Regions from separate parts of the Homo sapiens genome. Here region 2 is linked to region 1. Evidence: fine-mapped QTL for protein levels in blood plasma. A gene starts in region 1. The other region holds a variant in brackets. All regions are shown on one strand. Distances are from middle to middle.

Evidence for each region. PIP is the chance, under the fine-mapping model, that this variant and not a neighbour inherited with it causes the effect. Sun 2018 read protein levels with aptamers (SomaScan).
Region 2: its variant is fine-mapped to the plasma level of the TMEM132C protein (Sun 2018, PIP 0.95). The variant lies in the coding sequence of TMEM132C. If it changes the protein, the assay may bind it differently, which can mimic a change of level.

What each region holds. Positions count from the first base shown.
Region 1 is chr12:128,265,547-128,268,448 of GRCh38, reverse strand. TMEM132C (transmembrane protein 132C) reads right to left here and starts at 1,279. Exons shown (of 9, transcript NM_001136103.3): 1 at 962-1,279. The coding sequence starts at 1,046. It overlaps LOC107987176 (a long non-coding RNA gene), which reads left to right and starts at 1,417. Exons shown (of 2, transcript XR_001749176.1): 1 at 1,417-1,878. RefSeq lists enhancers at 238-1,076, 1,612-2,133.
Region 2 is chr12:128,615,101-128,618,002 of GRCh38, reverse strand. It overlaps TMEM132C (transmembrane protein 132C), which reads right to left. Exons shown (of 9, transcript NM_001136103.3): 4 at 1,668-1,851. Among named protein-coding and RNA genes, the nearest start is that of SLC15A4, 210 kb to the left of the region's middle. The variant G/C (reference allele first, on the strand shown) is at 1,791.

The sequences.
Region 1 (2,902 bases):
GCTGCCCTGGCAGAGCCTAGGCCTTGCTCCCCGCCTGCCCCGCGGCTCCTGGGGCTGGAGACCGCCTCTCCCCGCCCTTCCCGCCGCCGCATCCGCGCGGCCACTCGGCCGCACACGCACATAATAAAAAAGGTCGGAAAAACCACACGGCTACCTTTCGTGAGCCCTGCGGGCGCCATACGTTAACTCCTTTAAATTCCTCCAACCCAAAGCAGGGCCGTCACTCCCATTGTAGAGAAGAGGACACTGAGGTGAAGGAGCCCCGGACAGGACCGCTGGTGAGGTAGTTCCCGTCGCGAGGGACGCACCCACCTCCCCATCCGCGCTCCCCCACCGCAAAGGACTCATTTGAGAGAACCCGCAGAGAGCCCCTGGTTTCTGCCAAGCTGGGGTCCCTGGTGAGCTGCGCGATGAGTGAGCGTTCCTCTAGGGCCCGCACAGAGACCCTAGCGGTTGCGGAAAGGGGATGCAAAGAACCGGGCCTTCCCTCCTGGAGCACCAGCCCCACAGTGCCGAAGCTGTGGATGGGGAGCTGTGGACAGGGAGCACACAGCCGGGAGGAAGGAGCGCACAGAGCGGAGCACCTCTCCTGGATGCCAGTTCCACAGGGTGACTGTGCTGGGGCTGGGGCAGGTCCGCACGGAACTCAGGGATGGGGAACAAACACCGTGTCCCTCAGCCACGCCCCCTCCTCATCCGCGGGGCAGCTCTGGGTCTGGGGGGTCCGGGGTGGGAGATTCGGGACTCGGGACCAGCCTAACTTGCCCGGATCCCGGCGCCCAGCTGGGAGCGCCCTTCTGGATTAGGGGCGGCTCGGCACCCGCAGAGGCGCTGTTGATGGGATCCGAGCCCCCGCCGAGGCCCCCGCCGCACCCCTCGCTTCGGCTGCCCTCACCCCGAGCTCCCCCGGAACCGGGAAGTTCGCATGCGTCGGCGCGCCAGGCACCCGCCCCGGCCTTACCTTTGCCCAGCAGCGCGCCCAGCAGCAGGCTCAGCGCCCCGCACAGCGGCGCCGCCGGCCCGGGGGCCGCACCCTCGGAGCGCATCCTGCGTCCCGGCCGCTCACGCAGCCCGCCGCCAGCCCGAAGCGCAGCGCCCGCCCGCGGCCCCCGCCGGCCGCCCCATGCCCGGGGCCACTCCCGCAGCCCGGTCGGCCGGGCCCGCTGCGTCTCTGCTGTCCGAGGCCCGCCCCTGCCGGGTCCACGCCGCCGCAGCTCCGGCTCTGGCTCTGGCGGCTCCGGCTCCGCCGCTGCTCGCGCTCCGGCCGGGACAACTTTTCTCCCGCAGCCTCCGCAGCCTCCGCAGCCGCCGGCCCGCCCCGCCCCCGGCCCCGCCCCCGCCCCCGCCCGGGCCCCGCCCCCGCCGAGCCCCGCGACCGCGGACAGATTGAGGGTGCGGTAGGAGAGAGTTCGCCTGCCCGCCGGGAGGGGCGGCAGATGGAGAACCCCCCCGCCCGGGCTAGGGAGGGTGTGCCCGGGAAAGAAGACCGGGAGAGGAGGGGGCGTCTCCCCAGGCGGCTGGGACGGCTCCTCCGGGGGTCCGCGCCTTTCCAGAGAAACTCAGCGTTCGCAGACTCCTGCCCGGGTGCCCAACGGACAGCGGCCCGTGGCCCGGAGGGTCCTGCCCAGGGACCCGACGCTCAAGGCGGAGCTGGACTCCTTCTCCCCACCCTCCCGTGGTCACTGCGGGACCTGGTGGTCGTCACGCCCCATTCCTCAACTTCAGGTGGCCGCTGCTTTAGCCTGGAGGGCTGGGGACATCTGGAATGCAAAGTCCCGCGCAGCTGCTGCGGGGAGAGCTCCTAACTGGATCACTGAGCGCGGAAAAGCAGCGCGCAGCGGAGCGTGAAGGCGGGGTGCGGGCTCAAGACAGATGCGGGTGTGCACCTGTGCGTGTGCGGAGGGGGCGAGGCACGAGATCACAGCGGTGTCTCTGGGAAGGGGACGAGAACGCAGAGGGGAAGAAAGGATCATTTTTCACTGCATGTCTGTGGGGCTTCCACTCCCCAATCATCTCCCCGCCGCCCATAGCATGTGTTTTATTATCTTTTCAGTGGGTGGAGAATAGCCCCTCTCTAGACTTGCTCCTGCAATAGGCAATTTCTCTGCAGACTCAGACAAGGAAGATCCGCCCTCCCCCCCCCCCCCCCGACTTCGTTCTCTCTATCTTTTCCCTCTGATTTCTCCAGGGCTGGCCTCCCTCATGGTGGTGATCCCAGGTGATCTCAGCGGCTTCCCTGTGCGGTTCCTGATGCTCATGCTCTGCTCTTTCTGCCACGCGTGGTCTGAGCAGTTTGAGGGCGGGACCCCGACTCCCCCCTTGTGACTGGGAATGAAGGGCCATGGGTTCGGAGGTCTCTGGACGTCCCCTCCTGTCCTGAGCTCCTCACCACGGGCTCAGCATCCCCTCTCACCGTGGGCTGGCTCGGTCCAACATCAAAAGGAAGCCTGAGGGGTCTTTTCTCACCATCAGTGCAGGAAAGAATTTCAAAAGAAAAAAAGAAGTCCTTGATTGAAAGAAAAGAAATGTAAACGAATGATCCCCAGCAACTGCAACCCCAAGTCTTATCTCCCAACTCAGCCCCTAAGGAATGAGCCAGGCATAAGGAGAAATTGGGGCGGGGTGGGGCGAAGGCTTTGCAGGGCACTGGCCAGAGTGGGAGGCTCTCTCCTGGGGTGGGGCCCGGAAGTCTGGGCCAGGCTGGGGGGAGATGTCTCCCTGGTTTTCTTGGCCGGCTCTACTCACATGATGTGAGGAGAAGGCAGCTTGAAAACTATCCAGGCCCCAAAGGGAACGGTAAAAGCTTGATTCTCATAGGCCTGGATAGCAGAGACTTGATTTTTAAAGTGGATTATGCTGATAATCGCCCAATTCTTCAGTACATTCAGCTAGTGTAGACCTG
Region 2 (2,902 bases), 350 kb before region 1:
TATTTAAAAATGTTAAAACCATTCTTAGCTTGCATGGTGTACAAAACCGGGCAGCAGATTGGATGTGGCCCATGGCTTGTTGTTTGTTGACCCCTGTTCTAGGACATAAAAAGTCAAAAGGAATCATTCTCTGACTTCCAAGTGTTTACAGATCTTTATGGTAGATGATACCTTCTGGGGTGCACATCTGCTATTTTGTCTGACCAGCATCTGTTCCCTGTTTCAGTGAAAGCCAAATTTTTCCATGATGCACAGGCTCTTAGTCTCATTCCACACTTGCCCCACCTGAGGCTACACCTGCCCTACCTGATTCCACACCTGTCCCACCTGACTCTACACCTGCCCCACCTGATTCCACACCTGCCCCACCTGATTCCACACCTGTCCCACCTGACTCTGCATCTGCCCCACTTGATTTCACACCTGCCTCACCTGATGCTACACCTGTCCCACCTGCTGCTACATCTCCTTCACCTGATTCCACACCTGCCCCAGGGTGATACATTCCCCAGGCCTGGCCAATCAGAGCAACACATCCTTTTGATTTCAGTGATTGGCTTCAAGTTGGGCTCATGACCCAAGCCAATCAGTTCCAATCAGTCTCTGTCCCAAAGGATTTGCTGGAGTGATTGGCAGTGAGGTTTCCACTCATTTCTTGCTGGACATGATGCTGTGAAGAAGCCAGCGTGGCATTGCCGGGGCCACCTTGTGACTAACAAAGAGGAAGGAGAGCTGAGAAAGGAAGAGAAGCCACTGTCCATACCACATCATTTGCACACGTGGGCCCCTCACACTCCAAGTGTGGTCTGCAGACCAGCCGCGCTGACATGGCTTAGGAGCTTTGAAAAATAAGTACCCAACCCAGACCTCCTAAGTGAGGATGGGCATCTACTCAAAATGTTCCTGTGATCTGCATGCCCGATAATGTTTGAGAAACACTTTTCTAGACTTTTAAACTTACATGAGCCAAGGTGAAGTTGGGTTGTGTTTGTAGCCTTTATAACTCAAAGAATCCTGAATAATCCATTTTCTTATAATCCTGATTAATCCATTTCTCATAGCATGATTCACACAAGTAGCATGTTTGCTTACACGTTCTCATCAGTGTACACTACTAACAGTAATCTAAGAGTGGCCACATTGTGAGTCAGATAGATGGTGCTGCACTACTCAAGCCCATTGTCACTCATCTACTTTCTACATTTCAGGTTGACCTCACAGCCCAGTGACAGCCTCTGAGAGTTCAATGCTGAGTGAGCTCCATCATCCTAAGGAAAGAGGAGATGAAGGGCATCTATCTCAAGCATGGAGTGGGGAGCAAGAAGGAACCGAGTTTGCAGAAAGATGGCAAAGCTGACCATCCTTTTAGCTCAGGGGTTTCCAACCCTGGCTGCACACTGAAATCACCTGGTGAGCTTCTTAAAATCACAGGTGCTCACTTCCACCTCCAGCAATGATTGTGACTTGCTGGACTAAACTTCATGACTAAAGTTGAGAAAGGCCAGGCTCATGAAAAGTAACAACTTCCAGGGTGAGGAAAGACGAGAAACTTTGAAAGTAAACACTCCATAAAATCATTGTAGCAAACATCCCATGACAGATAGGAAGGACACAGGATGCAGTCAGGTGGCTGAATGCAGGAGCATCCAAGGTAACTCAGGACTCACCATAGCCAAGGGAACGATGCCCACCAGGTCCTTCTGGCTGACAAAGATCTCGGACACGGCGATGTCTGTGGTCCCCTTCCGTGGGTACTCCACCTGCCACGTGATGGGCTGAGTCCCTGAAAG[G/C]CTGCTGAAACTGGCTATTTCAAAGTTCATCTGCACAACCTCATTGAATAAACTGCTGCTCCTGGAAGAGAGAAAAGAAACTGGCTTTAAGCCAACTTTGTTCAAAGGACCCTTCTCTCCTCATAATAGTACGCAGAAGATAAAGACAAAGAAACACATCTCAGGGATGGCTCCAGGGTTTTGGTGGGGGATCCTGGGGCATGGAACCACCTACAAAGTGAGGACTGGCATCTGGGACAGAGAAGCACCCACAAGTTAAGGATATGGGCCAAGAATATTCAACAATGAGCAGTAACCTGTGTCTGTGTTGATGAGGCCTTGGAATGATTATTACCAGCTCTGCAGATGATGAGCTAAACTAGTTTATCTCACACCTGCAGTATGCACCTGAATGGCCTCTGTTCAGTTCTGTAGGTGTGGCAGATGCTATAGGCTGGGGTCCCCAACCCCTGGGCCATGAACCGGTACCAGTCCATGGGCTGTTAGGAATAGGGCTGCACAGCAGGAGGTGAGTGGCGGGTAAGTGAGCAAAGCTCCATCTCTATTTATAGCTACTCCCCATAGCTCACATTATCACCTGAGCTCCACCTCCTGTCAGGTCAGTGGCAGCATTAGATTCTCATAGGGGCATGAACTGTATTGTGAACTGCGCATGTAAGGGATCGAGGTTGTGTGCGCCTTATGAAAATCTAACGCCTGATGATCTGTCACTGTCTCCCATCACTCCCAGAAGGGACAGTCTAGTTGCAGGAAAACAAACTCAGGGCTCCCACTGATTCTACATTACGGTGACTTATGTAATTAGTTCATTATTATTCAACATTCATTATTCATTATCATTACAATGTAATAATAATAGAAATAAGCTGCACAATAAATGTAATGTACTTGAATCATCCCAAAACCATCCTTCCCCCACCACCGCCATCTGTGGAAAAATTGTCTTCCATGAAACTGGTCCCTGGTGCCAAAAAGGTCAGGGACCACTGCTGTAGGCCACTCACTCAATAGCACCTTCAACCCCCTCTGCTTGTCCTCCTCTGCTATAGGGGCTGAGAGGCCTAAACTACATTCTCAGAACCCCTTGCTGCTAGATGCAGGATTGAAGCAGT